Homo sapiens: one gene and its partners. The protein of the gene in region 3 interacts with the protein of the main gene of each other region in a pairwise test. Each region holds a gene or a part of one and is shown on either strand. Other genes may lie near its edges. The genes, in order: PSMF1, DOCK2, KHDRBS3 and ZNF575.

The links.
Region 1: the proteins of KHDRBS3 (region 3) and PSMF1 interact in a two-hybrid assay, tested with the Homo sapiens proteins (2 studies listed by BioGRID and IntAct).
Region 2: the proteins of KHDRBS3 (region 3) and DOCK2 interact in binary tests that used the Homo sapiens proteins (3 or more experiments, as listed by UniProt).
Region 4: the proteins of KHDRBS3 (region 3) and ZNF575 interact in binary tests that used the Homo sapiens proteins (3 or more experiments, as listed by UniProt).

The regions. Positions count from the first base shown.
Region 1 is NC_000020.11:1,113,872-1,121,632, reverse strand, and holds the start of PSMF1 (proteasome inhibitor PI31 subunit), read right to left. Parts: upstream 3,032-7,761; 5' UTR 2,860-3,031; coding exon 2,731-2,859; intron 1-2,730. UniProt on the Homo sapiens protein: Plays an important role in control of proteasome function. Inhibits the hydrolysis of protein and peptide substrates by the 20S proteasome. Also inhibits the activation of the proteasome by the proteasome regulatory proteins PA700 and PA28.
Region 2 is NC_000005.10:170,081,262-170,083,907, forward strand, and holds the end of DOCK2 (dedicator of cytokinesis protein 2), read left to right. Parts: intron 1-580; coding exon 581-723; intron 724-1,534; coding exon 1,535-1,597; 3' UTR 1,598-2,121; downstream 2,122-2,646. UniProt on the Homo sapiens protein: Involved in cytoskeletal rearrangements required for lymphocyte migration in response of chemokines. Activates RAC1 and RAC2, but not CDC42, by functioning as a guanine nucleotide exchange factor (GEF), which exchanges bound GDP for free GTP.
Region 3 is NC_000008.11:135,642,453-135,648,145, reverse strand, and holds the end of KHDRBS3 (KH domain-containing, RNA-binding, signal transduction-associated protein 3), read right to left. Parts: intron 3,088-5,693; coding exon 3,029-3,087; intron 1,154-3,028; coding exon 1,062-1,153; coding exon of another isoform or gene 1,049-1,061; 3' UTR 536-1,048; downstream 1-535. UniProt on the Homo sapiens protein: RNA-binding protein that plays a role in the regulation of alternative splicing and influences mRNA splice site selection and exon inclusion. Binds preferentially to the 5'-[AU]UAAA-3' motif in vitro.
Region 4 is NC_000019.10:43,528,541-43,536,221, reverse strand, and holds ZNF575 (zinc finger protein 575), read right to left. Parts: upstream 3,035-7,681; 5' UTR 2,701-3,034; exon of another isoform or gene 2,428-2,700; 5' UTR 2,320-2,427; intron 1,886-2,319; 5' UTR 1,800-1,885; coding exon 1,721-1,799; intron 1,194-1,720; coding exon 535-1,193; 3' UTR 135-534; downstream 1-134. UniProt on the Homo sapiens protein: May be involved in transcriptional regulation.

The DNA of each region.
Region 1 (7,761 bases), on a different chromosome or scaffold from region 3:
AGAAGGGTGGAAACAGCAGATGGCTGGAGAGGCAACACAAATATCCTCTGAGCTTGGAAAACACAATTGAGTCAGCTGAGTTGGCTGGCCCCAGGCTGAAAAATTAAACCTCTTCTTAAATAAACTAATAGGAAAGATGCCTCTCCAGTTTCCACTCTGAATGAAAGTAGACTCAGCAGAAGCGACAGAAGGACAAGTGCAACCTGAGCCCCAATGGCAATCAAGGAGAAAAGGCAGAGAGAAGCAAAAATACACCACACTCTAGTTTGCAATCCAAACACTCATTCCTTCGGGGGCATGCAAGATTTAGTGCTGGGGTAGATAGAGGAAAGGTGGCAATGCCTTACAAAAACCTAATTCCCCAGGCTCCTGGGCCTCCCCAAAGATGTCTGAAACCAGCATCTTTTTCTGGCCTGCAGAAGCTCAACGAATAGCACCATGAACAGAGAAAAATTAGATGGACCTTGGGGAATTGGTCAAGGACCTTTTTAAAAAAAAAAAAAACTATTAAAATGAGATTGTATTCTTTCTGTACATTTCATCTGAAAATTTTGGAGCCTTGAGTGTATGGCAAGGTGGTAATGCCAGCTAGAAGGTATCGACTTATGTGAACTCATGTCCCTAAACTGTCAAAGTGATTCAGACAGCATGAGTGAGGGTAAGAAATGTAGGAGCAGATCCACAGTGATTGATATTTATTTGTGGAATGGCAAGGAGAGAAGGGTATCAGACACGCCCTCTAGAACAAGTTCCTCAGCAGAGGTGGATGGGGTTCTGACAGTGTGGCAGAGTCTAAGTAGCTAGCTAGGAGTAGGTAAGGGGAGTGAGGTACATGAGGAGGGACAGAGTGCAAAGCAGAGCTGTTCCATCTGAAGGACAAGACAAAGGGCAGGGGGAGCTGAGGGCCAATGGAGGAGATCCCAGGTCAAAATCAAATCTTACTCCTCTTCTCAGCCCCACTGTCCCCTGCACCATCCCACATACCAGTTTCTTTGAAGAATCTAGGAAAAGTTGAAATAAAATGACTGGGGCAAGTGAAGAGCTGCTTAAGATTAAAAAGCTGGAGTAAGACAAGTGGGGAGACAAGATTTCTGTTAGGGGAACTATGCATTGAAAGAGGGGCCTGACGCTGAAATGGGGGTGCTGTCTCTACCTGGTCCCAAGGTCTGAAATGCTGGAAGACATTTGGAAGGTATGTGGAATGAAGAGCAGCACAAAGAGAAAGGTCAGGGACAGATGTGTTTGGGAAGGTGAAATGATTCCTGCTTCCAGGTATGTGTGTGTGAAAGGCTAGCTGTTCTTTTCCATCCTCATATCTAGTCTTAGAGCCCATTTGAGAGATGAAGTATGTGTGAGTTTGGAGGTGGGAATGGGGATCCTGAGTGTGTACCTGGGGTCCCAGTGAGATAATTGAGGTCTGGGGAAAAAAAGAGCCAGAAATCCCTGACGGTTCTTGTGTTCTGATTCCTGCTGGAGGGGGTAAAGTGTGAGAGGGGTATGGTGGTCTTGGTCTTTAGTTCTAAGAGACAGAGAGGAATAGGGACAGCAGTGAGGGGTGGGGGAAAGGGGATACTTGTCTAAGTGCTCAGAATGTACAAAGCAAGTTTGAAGAGAGGTCCCTAAAGCTATGTCAGGAGGGGAGAATTAAGACTCTATTTGAGAAGCTAAAAAAAATGATTAGAGGAGTTGAGAACTGAAGCAGTCAAAAAGGAGAGGAAGGGTGAAATCTCATGGCAAGATGCAATAGGTGGGGTGGTCTGTTTCCCATGGCTAGTCTTGGTTCTGAGAGTGAGAGAACAGTGACAGTGAGGGGCAGGCATGGAGGCAGGCCCACTTCTCCCAGGAAGCAGATGTCTAGGATGATGTGGATGTTGGGGATGAGGGTCACAGGGAAGAGACAGGAAAGAAAGAAGAATGCCAGAGCAAAGAATTAGTGAGGTGGGTTGGGTCCAGCAGTCCTAGAACTCTGTGGGGATGACAACGACGTCCCTAGCTGTAAGAGGTGGAGCCTGGGGATGGGAGAAGAGGGGCTGGCCCTATGGGGACAACTATGAGGAGAAAATCTTATATGACCCTCACACCCAGGGTGTATGTGTGTACGACTCTGGGGGTGATTGCTTCCTAGAGCTTGAGTTGGGGATGGCAGTAGCGAGTGGACTATGCTGGGCCCTTCAGTAAAGGGTGAAAGGCGTGTGAACTCTCTGGGCCCATGCTAACGGGTGAAAAAAGGGCCCTGGCCTGGGGCTGAGTAGGTCAAAGCTCACTCCTGTACCTGTGCTTGGATCCAGATGTTTGGTGGAGGCTCTACTGTGGTATGAGGGCGGAACTGAGTCAGTCCCCTCACCCCGAGGCTGGGTGGTAAGGAGTTCAGACGGGATCAGGTGGGTGAGAAGTGCTCTGGGGAGCTAAACTCCTGTCTAGATTCTTTGCCATTCTATGGAATGCTAGATCCACACAGTCCTGGCCTGAGAGGCTGCCAGGCTGTGTTGAAGCGAGTGTCCGCCCTTGAGTTTACAAATCATGTTGTGCCAGCTGTGCCGTGAGGGACTCTGGGCTGGGATGGGGCAGGTGAGCAACCTCCGACCCGCAGGTTTTACCAACGCTGCCATCTGCCCCAGACCCTGCACTGGGAGAAGCGGGGAAATCGGGCGCTCTGGACCAGGCCTCCGGTACTCTGAGTTTGGGCAGAAGACAGTTCCCTCCTCCACCCTGGCCGGCTCCGTGGCGTACCTGGTCACCGACACCCAAGCCGAAGTAACCGTGTGTCACCACTTCCCAATGCAAGAAGCAGACGAGCGCGTCCTGCCTGCAGGTGATGGCCGGCGCTGCCGATGCGAACAGTACCTCCAGGCCCGCCATGAGCGCCCGCGACTTCGGCGTCTGGAGGAAAGAAGGGGGCGGGGGTAGTGCAGTGAGCCGGCTCCGCGGCCGGGGTAGCTATAACTCTGCTTCCCTCTTGCGCTGGTTCTTGCCGAGTCCACACCTGAGACCAAAATGGAGACGCCCGGGGACGGGGCGGGGCGGGGAAGCCGGAAGTAGTCCCAACAGCGGGCGCAACTGCGTGAGGCGCGCCGGGTTGGCAACGCGAGCGCAGCACTGAAAGGTTCCGCCAGGGAGTGCGAGCGGGGCGTGGCCCCTCAAAGCCGGAAGCCGGGTCTTGGCGGCAGTCGACAGGATCGCCTGACGCGGGCACAGCGTCCTCCAAGAGGCCACCTTGCTGAGAGGCAGACTTCCCATCCACAAAATGGGGTATGCTAGGCCGGGGAAGGGGCTGGGAAATGTGGCTAAAATACATTCTTAATAATCGTTAACACGTTCGCCGTGCTTGCTACCGTCCACATTATTCTAAACGCTTTACTTGTATTCATTTATTTAATCTTCACAACCCAACTCTATGCAGTTGATATTAACGATTAATGTGCCTCATTGCACAGATGAGGAAACTGAGGCGCAGAGGGATAATTTGACCAAGATGACAACAGCCAGCCGGTGAACGGCTGAAATGGTTATGGGAACCTGGCAGTCTGGCTTCTAAGATAACATTTATTAAGTGTTTATTGTGTGCTACATCGTGCGCTAAAACCTTTACATCACCCTCTCAACAACTCTATGAAGTATGGACCGTTATTATCCCCATTTTGCAGATGACAAAACGGCTCAGAGTTGAAACCACTTCTCCAAGGAGACACAACTGCTGCCCGCAGAGCTGAAGCTCCTGACCCACTATCAAATTTCAATCATTTATTTGCCTACCCCCTTTATGATTTTTACCACCCGTTACTTCAACAAGTTTCATGAAATCCACTTATTGTTTTTACCCAAATAAATTTAGTTTCCCCATCCCAGTCACTAACCTGGTTCAAGCTCCTGTCATCTTTCACTTGGATGCCTGGCATCAGCCTCAGAACTGCCCCATTCCATTCCTGTCTCTCTCTAGTCTGTACTGCACTCCGCAACCAGAGAGATTCTGTTAGAAAACAAGTCAGATCGGCCAGGTGTGGCGGCTCATGCCTGTAATCCCAGCACTTTGTGAGGCCGAGGCAGGCGGATCACTTGAGGTCAGGAGTTTGAGACCAGCCTGGCCAACATGGTGAAACCCTGTCTCTACTAAAAATACAAAAATTAGCTGGGTGTGGTGGCGCACGCCTTTAGTCCCAGGTACTCGGGAGGCTGAGGCATGAGAATCAATCGAACCCGGGAGGTGGAGGTGGAGGTTGCAGTGAGCCAAGATCGCACCATTGCACTTCAGCCTGGGCAACAGAGCGATCTTCTGTCTCAAAAAAGAAAAAAAAAAAAAAAGAAAAGTCAGATCACATCCGTTGGCTCAAAATCGTCACACTCAATGGAAAAGTAAAGTCCTCCCCATGGTCTGCAGGAATCTGCATGTGGTCTGCCATCTCCTGCCCCAGCCCTGCCAGCCCTGTACCTCTCTGATTCAGTCTCCTTCAACTGTCCTCTCATCCCCTTTATACGTGCAATAACCTTGGCTCCCCCTCTTCTCTCACATCTACATCTGGTCCAACAGCAAAGCTAGTTGACTCCACTCTCAAAATATATTATGAATCTGACCACTTCCCATCACCTTCACTGCTTCCACTCTGGTCTGATCCTCCAGCATCTCACACTTAGACTATTGCAGTAGCTTCCCAGCCAGTTTCCCTGTTTCATGTGTTCTGTTTGGGCCTTTGCGTTCCTCTTCCTGGAATGCTCTTTTCCCAGATATCTGCATGTCTTGCTTCTTCATTTCAAGTGGCTTCATCCCTCACTCCTACCATCCTCAACAGAGGGCTTCCCAGACCATTCCATCCAAAATAACCTTCTCCCGTCTTTAATCCCTCTCTGGCTTTTTTTTTTTCCTGCAAAGCATTAATCATAACCTGAAACTATGTTAGGTGTTTATTTCTTTGCTTATTTAATGACTGTCTTTCCACTAGACTGTGACAAAGGAACAGGGAGCATGTCTACCTTGTGCACATATGTACCTGAGTGCCTTCTGGGATCAATCTATACTTATTGAAAGACAGAATGAATACTGAATGAAGGAATGAATTCTTGGCCTAGCCCCAACCCAGTCAGGGCACTCTTACCTCTTTATAGTCCATCACTCCCTTTGTCAGCTGGCCCTGTGCCTCTCCAAATTTTGTGTTCCTAAAGTTTCCTTGAGACAACCAGATTCTTGAACCCCTTCTGCAGAGATTCTGGATGAGAAGGTCTGAGGAAGAGTGCATGTATGTTGACTACATTCTGGATGACACTAAAGCTAGTGGCTGTGGAACTCCTCTCTGAGATGTACTGCCTGTGGCATAAAGCTATTTGCCCTTTCTACTGAGAAGTTCTGCACTTTCAGTCTTCCCTGCTTTTGCTTGCTCTGTCCCTTCTGTTTGTAATGCCCTTATCCAATTATGGAAAATTTCTACAGATTCATTCCATCAATAAACTTTCATAGGCTGGGCTGCCATGAACCATAGTGCAGGGTGTCCACTTAAGGTGCCTACTTAGTGGCAGCCCATTCCTAAGTGCCTACTGTGGGCCAGACACAGATGAACAGGTTCCTGTCCCTATAGAGCTCACTGTCTAGTGTTTAAAAAAAAAAAAAAGTACTGGCCAGGCATGGTGGCTCACACCTGTAATCCCAGCACTTTGGGAGGCTGAGGCAGGTGGATCACGAGGTCAGGAGTTCAAGACCAGCCTGGCCAACATGGTGAAACCCTGTCTCTACTAAAAATACAAAAATTAGCCGGGCGTGGTGGCAGGCACCTGTAATCCCAGCTATTCGGGAGGCTGAGGCAGGAGAATCGCTTGAACCCGGGAGGTAGAGGTTGCAGTGAGCCGAGATCAAGCCACTGCACTCTAGCCTGGGTGATAAAGAGAGACTGTCTCAAAAAAAAAAAAAAAGTGGATTAAGGATCAAAAGGTGTTCCAGTAAAAGGAAACAGTATGTGCAAAGGCATGGTGGAATGCAGCTAGCTCTGTGGGATTACAAGGTCAATGTTGCCTCCTGAGTGAGGTTTCCCTCGTCTCTTTGCCCATGATTAATTGCACTTTCCTCAGTGTGCTTGGCATCAGTGGGCTTTCAAGGGGTGGGCATGGGACAGTGAGAGCTATCAGCCTTAGTCAGGTGGAGAATTTTATCAATGAAGTTGATTCAAATTGCTGGTACATGATGACAGTAAAAAGTGGACTGGCCTTTGGTCTGTTTTGTTACTGCCTTTACGTTTTCTACAGCAAATGTACCTACTCCTTGTCTGCACCAGGGCAGACAGCTCCGTCACCCCCACCCCTTGGTTCAACACTGGTTTGCATACAGTTGGTTGTAGCTGGCATCTTACAGGGCAGACAGCTCCGTCACCCCCACCCCTTGGTTCAACACTGGTTTGCATACAGTTGGTTGTAGCTGGCATCTTACAGGGCAGACAGCTCCGTCACCCCCACCCCGTGGTTCAACACTGCTTTGCATACAGTTGGTTGTAGCTGGCATCTTACAGGGCAGACAGCTCCGTCACCCCCACCCCTTGGTTCAACACTGGTTTGCATACAGTTGGTTGTAGCTGGCATCTTACAGGGCAGACAGCTCCATCACCCCCACCCCTTGGTTCAACACTGGTTTGCATACAGTTGGTTGTAGCTGGCATCTTACAGGGCAGACAGCTCCGTCACCCCCACCCCTTGGTTCAACACTGGTTTGCATACAGTTGGTTGTAGCTGGCATCTTACAGGGCAGACAGCTCCGTCACCCCCACCCCTTGGTTCAACACTGGTTTGCATACAGTTGGTTGTAGCTGGCATCTTACAGGGCAGACAGCTCCGTCACCCCCACCCCTTGGTTCAACACTGCTTTGCATACAGTTGGTTGTAGCTGGCATCTTACAGGGCAGACAGGTCCGTCACCCCCACCCCTTGACACTGGTTTGCATACAGTTGGTTGTAGCTGGCATCTTACAGGGCAGACAGCTCCGTCACCCCCACCCCTTGGTTCAACACTGGTTTGCATACAGTTGGTTGTAGCTGGCATCTTACAGGGCAGACAGCTCCGTCACCCCCACCCCTTGGTTCAACACTGGTTTGCATACAGTTGGTTGTAGCTGGCATCTTACAGGGCAGACAGCTCCGTCACCCCCACCCCTTGGTTCAACACTGCTTTGCATACAGTTGGTTGTAGCTGGCATCTTACAGAACACTGGTTCCCTCTTCTACACCATCATCCCTGTCTTAACATGTATTCTCTCAGAAGCCCGTGGTGAGACAGGGATTTGAGTGGTTTATTTGGGAGCTGATTCCAGGAAATAGCGGTGGGGGCAGTGGAGTAGGGAAGTGAGACAGGAAGGAAAGGGAGCCAGCAGAGGGAGTGTGATGAAGCCAGTTACCTCTACGGGCAACTGGACCGCACTCCTACCCGGGAACTCTGGGAGGCAGTGTGGGGCATGTCTCAGAGCTATTGCATTTGAGGGCATCTGCCACAGGCTGAGAGCTGCTTCTGGGGTCCTGGAAGGCCCTCAGGCACAGAGTTGCATAATTTAGAGAAAGCAGTCTTTGCGTCTAGAGGTGACTGCTGAAGGGTGATGAGGGTGTTGTAGTGCGATCTGCTCTGTCCTCCCACACCCCTGACCGGGGGTAAGCCATGCCTTAGAAAGTCCGTAACCCAGGCCGGGCGCGGTGGCTCACGCCTGTAATCCCAGCACTTTGGGAGGCTGAGGCGGGCGGATCACGAGGTCAGGACATCGAGACCATCCTGGCTAACACAGTGAAACCCCGTCTCTACTA
Region 2 (2,646 bases), on a different chromosome or scaffold from region 3:
TGGCCCAAGCCATTTCACTGGTATCTGCTCAGCAGGTCTCACCACACCCTGGCGGTCTGGGCTCTTTCTCCCATTTGGCCAATGTCAAAACCAGCAGTCAGAGAGTAACTAATTTTTCATGTCTCTGTGACGCCAAGCTGGGGCTGTAACCACTAGGTCATCTGGCCCCTCCACCAGGTGACACGTGGGTTTGAGACTCTCTTCCCGCTGTCTCCTGCAATGGGGAGAGAAATCCAGGGTGTTGGTGTTGGGAGCTGGAGGAAGAGTAAGCTCACACTGTCCCCTGCCTTGGAGCAGAAGGTTCTGTTTCCTGGGGATGTCAGGGCTTTGGGGCAAGGTTTTGACCAGGAGCCAGGAGGCTGAACCCTTGTCTGTAGGGTGGGCAATCTTCACTGCAAGAGGACAGCTTCAATGTCCCCTGGCACGGCAGGAAATAGGCATCCTGCCTCCTGCTTGGCACATACAATGTGTGATCCCTGGATGCTGGCTCTGTCCCCCAGCCCTCCCCCTGTCTACCTCCCCCAAGGCACTGCCCCTCCTCTACCCACCCATTCACACCCCAGCTCTGCTCTCCTTCCAGCCCTGGCGCTCTCAGTGGCAGGCATCCCTGGGTTGGATGAGGCCAACACATCTCCCCGCCTCAGCCAGACCTTCCTCCAACTCTCAGATGGTGACAAGAAGACACTCACACGGAAGAAGGTCAATCAGTTCTTCAAGACAATGGTGAGGACATTGAGGGTGGAAGGAAAGGAAGGCATTGGGAGGAGAAAGGGAAGAGAGCAATGCAGAGAGAAGAAAATGGGGGGTTGTGTGTGCATATGTGGTCATTCCTAGGGAGGCATAGTCAGGAGGCCCTGAGTTCTGGGACACTGTGCAGCAATGCCCAGAGGGCAGTTCTCCTCTGGGGCCTCAGGCAGCTCCTCTGACCAGGATTGACCCCAGCTAGGGATGTGCAGGACCCAGGGACCTCAGAAGCAGTAGGTGGCCTACCCTCGCCTAAACTGCCCCTTAGTGCTCCAGCCCTTTTTTATTCAACCTATATCACAAAATCCTACAAATTGAACATTAGTTTCCAAGCGCTGATTCTGCAAGTCCCATCTCCTATTGTTACTTGTTGGCCTTTGCTCAAGATCAAGAAGGTACCATAACACATCTGATCCTCAAGGTAATATGAAATCAGGACTCTGCTACTACAAATATCTCAAGTTTACCATGAGCACACGATGAGTCAGGCACCATGCTAAGCACTTCCCAAGCATGGTGCCATTTGAGCTCCCACTCTTAGGATTTTATATGGGAGGCTCACAGGGTTTGGTAAGTGAGGTGCCCAAGTCCACATGGCTAGTGAGCCTGGGCTCACTCTACTGTCTACCACTGCCTTTCTGGCCAAAGCCAAGGGCATAGCAGCTCACATTCACTGGGCTTTGGGCAGGGGTCAGTGTTGAGGCCCTTGTGATTAGGACTGGGAAGCTCCATTTTGGTGCTTAATCTGATAATCGCATCTTGGTTTTGTGCTTGTTTATTCTCTCAAAAGCTGGCCAGCAAATCGGCTGAAGAAGGCAAACAGATCCCAGACTCGCTGTCCACGGACCTGTGAGCTGCTGCTGACTAGGGCTGCATGGGAGAGCCAGGGAGGGGAGTTTCTGGAAGAGGAAAGCCATGCGTGGAACATCGAAGCCTCAGAGAGTGGGAGACTGTCCCCATCAGTTGTCCTTACTTAGAGGAGACAGAGAGGCCAATCAGGTCCCAGAGCTTGAATGCTAACAAGCCCAGCATCCCCTGGGGCTGTGATCATGGTGGATGAGGAAGCCTCAACGTAGATTCCTGAACTCAAGGTACCAGCAAGAATGCCTTCTCCCAGTGTGCTCTCCCCAACATCCTAGGCACAGCTTTCATAACCCAGTTTCTTAGGTGTAAGAAACTGTTTTTATCTCATTTATTAAGTCTCAGAACTTAACAGAAAAGGAAGCCTTTTAAATATTCTTTTTAATTTTATTTTAGATTAACAGTTTTGTACTTTACATTTTTTTATACAACCAACCAGTTTCTTTTCTAGCCAATCATCTCTGAAGAGTTGCTGTTTCTTACTGACAATAAAAAATGTTCTCTTGGTTCGAATAAGCCTTGTTGCCTGATTCTGTTGGCTGACTCTCCTGGGCCCAGGACTGGGCAGGAAGCTCCCTGGAAGGAAGGCAGGCCCAGGGGCTGCAGTGATGTGAAGGAGCCTGGTGATGCCCTTGCCCAATGCCAAATTTCCCCACCTCATCTATGAGAAGATTCTTCAAGAATCTCCATGACTCTTGTTCCTTAGGTGCCAAACCCTGGGCTACCAGCATGTTAAAAAAGTTGCCCTGGTCTTCCTCACGAATCTGAATAGTGGAGTGTCATACCTCCTTTCTTCACCTTTAGAAAGAGATGGCAAGACCACCCAAGCCAGGTCACTCTAGTAAAGACCAAACATAATGCCAAAGAGTTAGGAAAAGAGGGGTCTGAGGTCCAGTGGACTTATGGTCCAGCTCTTGGATCTTGTCACCGGCTCCCAAGTGGTGGCTTTTCTTGGAGGAATTCTCAGGTTTTTCAGATGAGGCCCAAAGGAGGTGAGTAGCTTTGTCAGGCAGCAGCAAGAGAGGATGGGAGCAAAGTCCC
Region 3 (5,693 bases):
TAAAATCTTATTTGATTTATTTACCTTTGAAAATGAAGACCGTTTAAGGGTTACACATCCTCAGCCTTGGCGAGTGCGACCTCAATTAGTCAAGCCAGAAAGTCTTTAAAAGCTTTGTGCTTAGTGCTTCCAGCATGGAGCGAGGTGTTCATTAAGGTACCAAAATTCTCATAAAAAATCCAAAGTTGCACTAGTGAAAAAACGCTCAACAAGATGAAAACTGATCACATCTTTTTCAGAAAATCCAGTAGTTATTTTAAAACCAGTTTTTAAACAAGATTTGGTTTTGCGTAGTTTAACGTGCCACTCAAGCAGCTCGATACCATTTGGACTCTTTAAACAGCATTTAAATCTATGGTGAGTATATAATGGTACATTTAATTTTATACCATTTTTAAAATAAGTTGTACAATGTTTAGTGTGACCCTTTTATGACAAGCATTGTTAAATGAATTCTTTCCCTGTTTACAACTATTTATGAAGGCCTTTTTAAATAAAAAAAAACCCATGAAATTGTTAGCTCACACACACAAAATTTCTTTCAAAAGTTTATTTAGTATCAAGCAAGAGGAGACTTTGCTTAACACTACAGAACATTTCAAGACTTGAGTTACAAAAGAATACCACATTATTTGCACTTGTAATTGGCTTCCCTTTTTACGCATGTTGGCAAGAGAAAAAAAAACTAGCATATGGCTGAAAGATAAAATAACTAAATTCTATGGAAACCTTTAAAATGAAAGGTGAGGCTTATGTTAAAAGAATAGATTAACATATTTAGTAAACCTATTTTTTGTTTAACACTAGTTAATCAAAGTTATTTTTTTTCCTTTTGATGACCTATTTTTTCATATACAGACTGGAAATAACAAAATTTTACATGTCTTTTTTTTTTTTTTTCTGCCCAGGTTGATGTTTCAACAAAGTAGTTTTAAGTTCCATCCATTCAGATTTTAAGCATTCTGATTTATTTAAAAAGGGATTGTTCATAGAAAAAAATTACTTTGAACAGTATACAGGACTGGTGGAGATTGGCTATTTCACAACATCAGACAGTACAATCAGTATCTGCCATATGGCTGGTCTCTGTAGACGCCCTTTGCTGTCCTCGCTGAAGGTGCCTTGTGTCTTGAGTTAGTCCACTCTTCTTGCCCTACAATCAGTAAGATGAATCACAATTAGATCACTGCCATGAATCCCACAGGCTTCATTTTTCAGACTCTAACTTAGCCCTGAACCAAAGGTACATGTCATATTGAAAATATATACCCCTGGTGTACTGAAAAGAAAAACAAACAAGGAATTTACTTAAATAAATTACAAACACAAGGAAAAATAATCATCTCACTCGCAAAATTCGTCAGCGTGGGAAGATAAACGGTTCTTGTATCTGAAATGGTAACCAACTTCGCAAGGACTTTCCTTTTGGTTACTCATTTAACAACAGTTTACAAGCTCAAGTAGCAAAGAGAACTGCCTTTTGCTAAACATCAGGACATTTATGAGTGAAAAAGAGAATGGGAAAAGGATCACTTAGATGTCTTCCAACAGCAAAAACAAAGAAAAAACATAGGTAAACATCTGTGAAGACAAAGAAGAAAACCGGAGAGCAAAACGGGAAGGGGCAGACTGAGAAAGGGAAATATGACCTCATTTTTCACAGGCGCTTTCACGGAAAGACTGAAGGAAAGTTGCATTGGGTTGAACTTCACTTCTCAATAGCACTTCATGAATATGAAATGAATTTAACGACATAATGTCAGATTTCATTCATCATAATGCTAAATCCGTACTGAACAAAGGTATTAATAACCAGGGACATTCTATCATCTTTATCTCCTGAAATTAAACACCTGTTCAGCCTGAAGATAACTTTTAATGAGTTATCTATAAGTCTTGGACATCAAACAGTTAACATCCCTGCTGCAACATACAGCAATTTAAAAGCCATGTGTCCACAGAGACCAATTTAAAAAGCTGTGAAGGAAAAATGCTTAAAATGACCTCTTCTTTTGATACAAAACATGCAATCAACGTCACTCCCTCAAGCTAACTTGCATCAATTTAGGTAGCCTGCATTCAGCAAACCAACATATTTCTCTTAAGTGTTTGTTACGGATAACAAAAAAAAAAAAAAAAAAAAAAAAAAAAAATCCAAGGTGCAGCCATCACAGCTTCAGGCAGGTGATACAACAAAATGCACTTCAAAAGGTTTAACGCCGGAAAATGGTTTTTCCGTTCTGTTAAGAGAAATGTCCTAACATCCATTAACCACAATCCTGATATACTTGCACCGGGTACCAGGGATTCATCAGAGCTTTGCAACTGATTGAAGCTTCATGTTCTCTGATCTCCTTGCCCTGCGGCAAGGGCTCTTCTTACTACCATTATGTTGCTGCCGCCAATTCTTTTAATTATTAAACCTGTCATCGTTCTGCATAGTGAGACTTTGGACATGAAGTCCCCAGCATCTCTACCAGCTCCACTGAATTAAGAGGGGTTTAGCTGCTGCCCTTTGTAAAGCTTACAGACCCTGTATCTCCTCCTTGGCTCAGTGCTTTTGTAACCTTTATGAAATGACTCCCAGTGTAATTTTTTTCAGAGGGTTTGAGATTGGAAATGAATTAAAACATAAAGATGAAGGTGGGAGAATCACTTTAGAGCTGTAGTCTCAATTGCTTCATTTCCCTTCACTGTCAGGAAACAAAGACACTTCAAAAAGACCCAGCTATCAAGTGTCTGAAGTTTGAAAAACTACTCTGTGAGAAAATCAGCACACGGCGACCAACTCAAACATAAAATTTAAGTTCAGAATCTGGATTCATGCAATCTTCAGCAAGTCTTTAGTCCTCTTCAAATATTTATATAATAAAGGAGCCCTAAAAATAGCTAGACATGCACAAATGAATTGACAGGAAGCTGCTGTTTCAGAGTCCAAATGTCCTTATTCTCTTCCCATTAATATCTTTAAGGTCTTTCTACGGCCATCTCTCCTCCCTCTCTTCACATGCTCTGGCCAGTCACTCACCGTAGGAATCATAAGTCTCCTCACTGAGTCCATGTCCGTAATCATAGTAATCAGCACCACTGCAAGTGATCAAAACAAAACAAAGGACAAAATCATCTGGCTGTGAGTTTCAACAGTATTCAATAACGTATTGTAAAACTTAAAGACAACTAATGAAGGGCAAGACTGAAAATTCAAAGAAATTCCCACCGAGATCACAGAGTTCTAAAGCAGAAGTGTCAACTTTGGGATTATCAAAGGACCCTTGTCTAGCTCCCTAATTTTAATACATAATAAATATGTTTCGACATTTTAACCACAACAATTGGCCACGCAACACACAGTAAGTGCCTAAAAGTGCACGAGGGAATACAAAGACAGCACCTGACCTGGGAAGACTGGGAGTCTGCGGAGAGGGAGGATGTGTGTGGACAATTCTAGCCCAGTGTGCCAAGAGCTAGGGCTGGGCCTGTGCAAGGCACTGTGGGAGTGGGGGAGGAGGTAAACACCTCCTTTCCAATAGATGGGATGTTTACAGAAGGCAAAGACTTTATTTCTTCTTACACCCTCGTCTACCAGAGAACCCGGTGCTGCATGAATTGTGGGTGCTGTACTTTATAGTACATTAAAAACAAATGCCCAGATGAAATGTTTTCTTTGACCGGCACTGTTGCATCACCATCCGGAAGCTGCTGGGAAAAGAGGACTCAGCAGCCATGGCCACATGGGACAGGAGAGCAGGGAAATGGATCTCTGCAGTCCAGTCACAAGTCTGGTTACATGAGGCCAAGGATCTTTTCAAAGTACAGGCAAATCCACGTTCCAATGTACAACATCCTTGAGAGAGCACGAGGAAAGAGCCATCACTGACAGCAAGAGGGAAGAGTTCTCACTGCCATTTTGCAGATGATGCAAAACAGCCTACATATATACAATGTATTTGAACTAGGAATAATTTTTTACAGGAATAGACTTGTGAAAAGTCTAGATTACTCAGCCATAACCATTCTGAGTATTTGAGAAAGAGTTTCCATGTACCCTCTCAGGCTTTCCTCTTTCCCACTCCATTTTGTAGGGAAACCACCATCCTGAATTTGTTATCTTAGACTGTCATGGAAATAAACATCCCCATTCTTCCAATTTCATACAATCAAGAGGTTTCTAATCAAAATGGAAAATGATCCAGCTCAGATGTTTAACACCTCAGGAAGTCACAGTTTGAGGAGCACAGATGCTTGCTGTGAATGTCTACTGAACACCAGCCGCTGAGATCCCACATCACCCCCGGCCTCGGATAGTAAAACTGCCATACCCATTTGACAGATAAGGATACTGCAGACCAGAAGAGCTAAGAAGCCAGGCTAAATTGCATGGAGAACAGTATAACTGAATCTCTGTGACTACACAGGCCAGACTTGTGGTCACAACCACACGGAGTTTTTCCCCCACGTTTTCTTTCTCAGGAAAATGACACCAGAGACTAATCATCACATTTAATGACTACGGCACAGCATGGCCATTCCTATGAGAAAAGTGTAAGCAATGGAGCTATGTTCCTTTTTATCTCAAACATGTGGGCATGAGTTTTTATATTTGCTACTCTTTCTGCCAGAAGGCCCTTCTCTCCTGTCCTCCAGGCTATTTCCAACTCAAGCCCTTAACCTAAATGCCACTTCCAAAGAGAACCTTGCTGGTATCCCTGAGTGAGGTTGGTTTCCCACGACAGCATGCCCTGGTTCTCATTCTTTTGGCCTGGAGGAGACCCTCACGTTACATATGTTAAGTGGGTATACGGAGAAGGGGCACCTCCATCACTCTAGTGTAGTGTGTCATGAATGGCTTGGAGCATGCAGTGCTTGCACAGTGTTCTGAGGGTGAAGGTGAAGACAGGTGGAGAAGGAATGGACAGAGGCAATGGCAGCAAGGGTCTTCCAGGCAGAAGAAACAGAATATGCAAAGCAGAGGCAGGAAACAGGTTGGAAAATCTAGGTGTCAACAAGCAGTTCAATCAAATATAGTAAGTATTGATGAAAAATGCCTGGACCAGGCCAGGCGCGGTGGCTCATGCCTGTAATCTCAGCACTTTGGGAGGCTGAGGCGGGCGGATCACGAGGTCAGAAGATCGAGACCATCCTGGCCAACATGGTGAAACCCTGTCTCTACTAAAAAAAAGTATATAAAAATTAGCTGGGTGTGGTGACGTCTGTAGTCCCAGCTACTTGGGATGCTGAGGCAGGGGAACTGCTTGAACCCAGGAGGCGGACGTTGCAGTGAGCTGAGATTGTGCCACTGCACTCCAGCCTGGCGACAGAGCGAGACTCCATCACAGAAAAAAAAAAAAAAGACAAATGCCTGGACCGGAATATTCCTTAGAATACTTCTTCCACACATAGAATATAGGCCCCACCTTGTTATCCTGGCTTAATCATATCCTTACAAGCTAATTAAATACGGTGTAACACGGAGGTTATGATTTGAGCTCTCTGTATAAAATAAGCTCTCTGAAATGGGCTGTGTTAAGCTCCGCTGGCTTAACACATTACAGAATAGTCACTACTACAGCTGACCTAATATACCAAGTAGCAATGTGCAATTTTTCCACAGAGGTACATGTAGCCACAGAGTTTTAAAAAATGGTCTTCAAATTAAGGGCTGGCATTCCTAAAAAAATTTAGAAGAAAAACGA
Region 4 (7,681 bases), on a different chromosome or scaffold from region 3:
GGTCCCCTGTTCTTGGGCACTTGAGTTGCTTCCAGTCTTTGGCCACAACAGTCGCACTGCAGTGAACACCCTTAACACTATGCTTTTTTTTCACATTCATGAGTTTATAGAATAAATTCCTACAAGTGGAAGAGTTGAGACAAGCATGTATGTATTTTCAATTTCTTAGATACCGTCATATGGCCAAAGTGGAGACACCAGTTTAAACTTTTAACAAGAGAGCCTGTTTGCCCACAATCCTCATCAACCCACGATAGTAGCAGACTTTTTACCTTTGCCATGTAAGTGTGTGGGGAGAAGCAGAGCCAGCGCTGTCAAACCACAGCTCCACGTCCATGGTTTGAGATCTCCCCAAAGCAGGGGAGCAAAGAGTTCCTCGGGCTTCTGAGCTCGAGCCCAGTATAAATGGCCAATCCCTTGCCCTGCCCTCTGCCAGCTATCTGGAAGAGGCGAGCTCATACAGTCGGTCTTAGAAATCCCACCTCTTACTGGCTAGGGCTGGCGGCAGAAGGGGACAGTGAGCCAAGGGAGGGCTCAGTCTCTCTCCCCCTTGTGCTCCACCTGGTGGTGGCTGCGTTGATGAAGGAGCAGTAAGCGTCTCTGGCCAAAGGCCTGGCCGCAGCTGGAGCATCGGTGCCAGGCAGTCGCCTGGCTGCCGGGCGCGGTTGGGGGGTCGTGACATAGGCGATGGGCGGCCAGCTTGGAGGGAAATGAGAAAGCCTTGGGGCAATGCGGGCAAGGATAGGGGCGGGCGTCGGTGGCGTGGTGCGTGTGGCGGTGGGCCGCCAGCTTGGAAGGGTAGCAGAAGGACTTGGGGCAGTCGGGGCACGGGTAGGGGCGGGTGGGTGCGTGGGTCCAGAGGTGAGCCGCCAGCTTGGAGCGGTGGCCAAAGGACTTCGGGCAGTGTGGGCACGGGTGCGGGCGGGCGCCGCTGTGCGTGAGGCGGTGGGCTGCCAGCTTGGAGGGGTAGGAGAAGGCCTTGGGGCAGTCTGGGCATGGGTGGGGTCGGGCGCCTCCGTGTGCTAAGCGGTGCGTGGCCAGCTTGGACGGGTACGAGAAGGCCTTGTCACAGTCGGGGCAGCGGTGCGGGCGCTGGGGCGGGGGCCGCCGGCGAGGCCGGGGAGGCGAGCCCGCGGACGCGGTGGGCCCTGGAGCTGACTGGCTGGGCTTCTGCGGTGGGCCCTGGTGGGGAGCTGGGGGACAGGAGGGCTGGTGGGCTCCAGGAAGCAGCCAACGCCCTGGGCCTAGGCCAGGCTCCGCCACGACTTTGATATTCGTGGGGCTCCTCCAAGTGTACCTGGGCACCTCAAGCATCACATTGAGACTCCCCAAATTGCATGTTTCTGCTCCCCCCTCCCCCCAGGCGTCATTCTGAGGGACTCCAAAGGGTTACTTTCCTGGATCCCCAAAGCTACTAAGGCTTCCTCAAAGCTACCAAGGTATCCGTTTCTAGTATCTTCCCAGTGATCACCCTGACATCCCGCATGTCATCCCTGACCCGTCCCTTCTGTAAGGCTCATTTCCTGAGCCTTAGCAAATGGTCACTGAGGCTCTCTCTGAGCCAAATGGGAGGATTTCCCAGAATGTGGCAGTTTTGGGGATCCCAAATAGTCATCACCCTAGGGCCCTCAAATTTTCACCCTGAGATTCCCCCAGAATGTGATTATTTTGGCCCCCGTTCCTGGAGAATGCTCCCTACTCACAGGCGGGGCACTCTCACCTTCTTTGGTCACTGGTTCCTTGCCAGTGGGACTAGGATCGGTAGCCCCGGCCGCGGACTCCGCGCCTCGCTCCAGCATCTTGCTGGCACAGGAACCTAGGGGCAGGGCGCGGGGCGGGGGTGACGCCGGTGATGACCAGGCTGATGGGGATAGGGTTGGAGGGCCTAAAATGAGGGATCACACTGTTTAGGAGCAAGGTCTGCAAGTATGGGATGCTAAGGCGGGGGCAGGCTTAGCGGGGAGGCGGAGCCTAAGAGCACAGTGAGCGGGGCTATGCAAATTCAAGCCAGAGGCAGTCCCTTCGCTATCTAAACCCAGGGTTGGAGTCTTTCAGCAGAGTGGGCGGAGTCTCCACAACTAACTCAGCGGCCGTCTTAAGCGCGGAGCCGGCGGGGCCTATGCGCAGAGTGGGCGGGACCTTCCCCACCAGACCCTGCAGTCCTGGAATGGGCGGGGCTGTACAAAAAAAGTCTTGTTCTGAAACTAGACCCAGGGGGCGGGGGCCTTCGAGCGGAGTGGGCAGGTCTTTCATCACCGTCCCAGGGGAGGGGCCTATGGGCACAGTGGGCGGGGCTTCACGTCGAAGACCTAGCTTTACCCGGCTTTTGACTTAGTCTCAGTTCATTGACGCCGCGTCAACTGCGCCCTTCTTGCCGTTAAATTTCATCCCTGGCTTGGATGGGGCCGTGGAGGATAGAGGGGGGACCTGGAGGAAGATACGGAAGGAACCTGGCATGCGTCGCGGTCCAGAGACCCCTAATGGACTTTTCCCTCAGAGTCCCAAGCGTAAAGGATTCAATGCACCCCTCGGAATCAGACATTCAGGCACCGATGCACCCTCCCGAGGCTCTGGCACCAATGCACAGTCCCTCCAGCATCTCCAGAATCTAGGCGTCCGGACCACAACCGATCTCCCTCGGGGTGATTCTGGCATTCAGCCTGCAAGCCAATATCCGCGCCCGAACCCCTGCGCCCTCACCTGCAGGACGGCCCCTCCCCGGGGGCGGGGCTTCCGGCTCCTCCCGCCACGGCCACGGCCGCAGCCGCTGTCGCCGCTGCTGCACTGCCCTCGGACCAGCGGAGCTGCCCCGCCCGGCGCGCGTCCGGCGTCGGGGGAGGGCAGGCAAGGGAGCGCGCGCAAGCTGCTTAGCCCAACCTCATTTCCATCCCCTCCTCCCACGCTGGACCAAAGGGGGCGTCAGAAAGCATGCGCAGTGCGGGCTGGCAGAGGCTGCAGAGAGGGGGAAGAAGGAATGGAAGGAGGGGCTGGGTGCGCCAGCCAGGCAGGCAAGTTCGTGAGCAAGCGCGAAGCTACCGTATCGACAGAAAGTGCACCGCCGGTGGCGGGGCCTACGGTGGCTGACTGGAGTCAAGCATGTACAAGACTAACATGGACAAACTGCGCTTGGAAATCAGTGCATGCACCCGTCTTTTTAATGTCCCTCTTCTTTTCGAGAATTCCGCTGAGTTCCATCTCCAGAGGCAGTTTCAAGAGCTCGCTGCTAATTCTACCCTTCAAGGCGTTTGCAAAAAGTCTGGCCAGTTCTTCGAGAGAGGGCGGGGGCGGGACTCCGGGCTCAAAGAGAGCCAGTGCCCAATAAAAGGCACGTTATTTGCACAGCGCCTTGGCACACCTCGCTATTGGGTGATTCAAGATTCTCAGCCACGCACCCATCTACCTTCCCCCTCGGAAGCCTGGGTGGTCCCGAGGTGCCCTGGCCCATGCTCTTGGTGCCAGGCCTGGGGTGGCATGCAGCTTAGCATTCTTCCCGAGCAGTGGCGGTGCACCTTCCTGCCTGGTGCAGAAAGGACCAGGAAATGCCCATAAAAGTCCTCTGCATGGGTGGGTCTCAGTCCGATAACCCGCAAGGTCTGGCGATCCCTGGGAGTTTGGCGGGGTTATTTGGACTCTGGAGCCAGATTGCCTGGGTAACTGGTTTGGAATACGGCTGTGCCACTTTCTAGCCGTGTGACCCTTTCTAGCTCTCTTTCTAGGCCTGTTTCCTCATCTATAAAATGGAGCGTTTTTAGGATTAAATATGATAATCAATGGAAAGTGTTTAGACTAGAAAGTGCCTAGGCCGGGCTCCCTGTCTCATGCCTGTAATCCCAGCACTCTGGGAGGCAGAGGCGGGCGAATCACTTGAGCCCAGGATTTCCAAACTAGACGGGGGCTAGGCACGGTGGCTCACGCCTGTAATCCCAGCACTTTGGGAGGCGGAGGTGGACGGATCACCTGACGTCAGGAGTTCGAGACCAGCCTGGCCAACATGGTGAAAACCCGTCTCTACTAAAAATACAAAAATTAGTCAGGCATGGTGGCACACGCTTGTAATCTCAGCTACTCCGGAGGCTGAGGTGGGAGGATGGCTTGAACCTGGGAGGCAGAGGTTGCAGTGAGCCAAGATCAAGCCACTGCACTCCAGCCTGGGCAACAGAGTGAGACTCCGTCTCAAAAAAACAAAAAAACCAAAAACCCAAACAAACAAAAATCCCAGCCTAGGCAACATAGTGAGACACCTCCCCATCTTAAAAAAAAAAAAAAAAAAAAAAAAAAAGTCTGGCTTAATGGCAGCCTGTAGTCCCAGCTATTTCACGGGGGTAGGGAGTGGGGACTCACCCAGGAGTTCATGTCTGCAATGAGCTATGATTGTGTTACTGCATTCCAGCCTGCGCAACAGAGTGATACCCCGTATCTTTAAAAAAAAAGTTTTTAAAATAATTATTCACTCATGACCAGTATTGTTTGATTTACCCCCCATCCACTCTTCCCAAATGATTCTGAAGCTAAATGTCAAACATCATATCTCATAAATATCTTTTTATTACACTTGATTTGCTTGACTTAAGATCTAAATGAGCTCCACACATTGTATTAGTTTGAAGTGACACTTCGGTCTCTCTCTCTCTCTTTTTTTTGAGATGGAATCTCGCTGTGTCCCCCAGGCTGGAGTGCAGTGGCGCAATCTTGGCTCACTGCAACCTCTGCCTCCCGAGTTCAAGCGATTCTCCTGCTTCAGCCTCCCAAGTAGCTGGGATTACAGGTGTTCACCACAACACCCAGCTAATTTTTGTATTTTTAGTAGAGACAGGGTTTCACCATGTTGGCCAGGCTGGTCTCGATCTCCTGACCTCGTGATCCACCCGTCTTGGCCTCCCAAAGTGCTGGGATTACAGGGGTGAGCCACTGTGCCCACCTCTTTCTTTTTTTGCACGGAGTCTTGCTCTGTCACCCAAGCTGGTGTGCAGTGGCGAGATATCAGCCCACTGTAACCTCCACCTCCCAGGTTCAAGTGATTCTCCTGCTTCAACGTCCTGAGTAGCTGGGATTACAGGTGCCCGTCACCACGCCTGGCTAATTTTTTTTTTTTTTTTTGTATTTTTGGTAAAGATGGAGTTTCACCATGTTGGCCAGGCTGGTCTCAAACTCCTGACCTCAGGTGATCCGCCCACTTCGGCCTCCCATGGTGCTGGGATTTCAGGTGTGAGCCACCGCGCCCAACCTCTAGGGCCACAGCTATTTTCAAGAACCATGATTTTAAGAAGGCAGAGTAGAAGCCAGAAGACCAGTGAGGGTATTGTTATATATTAATTACAGTATTAATTGCTAGCACTTATTATACACTGGAAACTGTCCTTATGTGCATTAATTTATTTAATCCCCATAGCAATGTTTTAAGAGGAGGTGCTACTATCATCCTTGTACAGAGGAGGAAAATGAAGTGTGGAGGGGAAGGTCATCCCAGCCAGGAAGTATCAGAGCCAGGATTTGAATCCCTCAGCCTGGCCCTGCAGTCCAGGCAATTTGCATTTATGCTTTGCTGCCCCTTGAATGGGGCAGAGGGTGTGATAACAGAAAAGTGGCCTGGTTAAGATAGGTTAAATCTGGCTGGGCACGGTGGCTCGGCCCTGTAATCCCAGCACTTTGGGAGGCTGAGGCAGGTGGATTACTTGGGGTCAGGAGTTCCAGACCAGCCTGGCCAACATGGTGAAACCCCATCTTTACTAAAACTACAAAAATTAGCTGGGTGTGGTGGTGTGCACCTGTAATCCCAGCTACTTGGGAGGCTGGGGCAGAAGAATCTCTGGAACCCAGGAGGCGGAGGTTGCAGTGAGCTGAGATTGCACCACCGCACTCTAGCCTGGGCAACAGAGCAAGACTCCATCTCAAAAAAAAAAAAAAAAAAAAAGAGAGAGAGTTTAACTCAGCAGGGCCTGGAAGTGGGTGGAGGTGGCAAGGGTAGGAAGGAGTCAAGGATAGTGACAAAATAATGATGGGCAGTTCCCATTGAGAGCCTGTGCTATGTCAGGCTATTGAACTATTTTCAACCTCATTTTGTAGATAAGAAAACTGGAACCCAGAAGAAGATAAGTTTTCAGCCCAAGGTCCTACACCTGAGAAGGGTGAAGCCAAGTCTAACTCTTAGAACATCTCACAGCTGAGCCTATAAACCCTGCCTAGGGTGTGTCTTCAAAGGACACATAAATGGTCTAGAAATTCTGCAAAAACAACGGGAAAGGGTGCCAGGGGCGAGAAGTTCTTATTTGGGGGACCCTCTCAGTAAGGAGTGCCTGAGGGTCTTCCTTTCCCTGGCTCCTCCCTCCCCTGAGTTCCCCAAATCCCTACACCTCCCTGTGTCTCAGACCTGCTTTCCCTACCTCTCTCGCCTACCAGCCAGACTGAGTCACCTCTGGGTCCTCAGCTTTGTCTAGCTTGAGTCAGGCATGCATGAGACCTCATGCCTGGAATTTTTTTTTTTTTTGAGACGGAGTCTCGCTCTGTCGTCCAGGCTGGAGTGCAGTGGCACGATCCCGGCTCACTGCAAGCTCCGCCTCCCGGGTTCACGCCATTCTTCTGCCTCAGCCTCGAGAGTAGCTGGGACTACAGGCATCCGCCACCATGCCCGGCTAATTTTTTGTATTTTTTTTGAGTAGAGACGGGGTTTCACCGTGTTAGCCAGGATGGTCTCAATCTCCTGACCTCGTGATCCACCCGCCTTGGCCTCCCAAAGTGCTGGGATTACAGGCGTGAGCCACCGCACCTGGCCTTTTTTTTTTAGACACTCTCGCTCTGTTGCCCAGACAGGGTTTTGCTATGTTGCAGAGGTGCAATCTTGGATCACTGCAAACTCTGCAACCTCTGCCTCTTGGGTTCAAATGATTCTCATGCCTCAGCTTCCCAAGTAGCTGGGTCTACAGGCGTGCCCCACCACGCCCAGATAATTTTTTTGTATTTTATTTTATTTTTTTCAGTAGAGATGGGGTTTTACCATGTTGGCCAGGCTGTCTCAAACTCTTGACCTCAAGTGATCTGCCCACCTAGGCCTCCCAAAGTGCTCAAAGTGCCTGTGCATGAGCTCAGCCATATGCTTTTTTTTTTTTTTTTTTTTTTTTTTTGAGATGGAGTCTCCATCACCCAGGCTGGAATGCAGTGGCACGATCTCAGCTCACTGCAACCTCCACCTCCCGAGTTCAGGCAATTCTCCTGCCTCAGCCTCCTGAGTAGCTGGGATAACAGGTGTGCACCACCACACCCAGCTAATTTTTATATTTTTAGTAGAGATGGTGTTTCACCATGTTGGTCAGGCTGGTCTTGAACTCCTGACCTCGTGATCCGCCCGCCTCAGCCTCCCAAAGTGCTGGGATTACAGGCATGAGCCACCGCGCCCAGCCGGCCACATAAAATTTTAATGAAGCAATTTGATAGGCTTAAGGAAAAGCAGGCCTTCTCTGTGTAAAGGCATTCACACAGGGGCTGCTCTGAAAATAGCTCCAGGGACCATTCCCTGGAAACTCCAGAATTAAGATAAATGTTGTTGCAGGAAACCCCTCCTCAGAAGCTGTGGGACAGGATAACTCAGTGGTTCATACCTGTAATCCCAGCATTTTGGGAGGCCCAGGTGGGAGGACCATTTGAGGCCAGGAGCTGGAGACCAGCCTAGGCAACATAGCAAGACCCC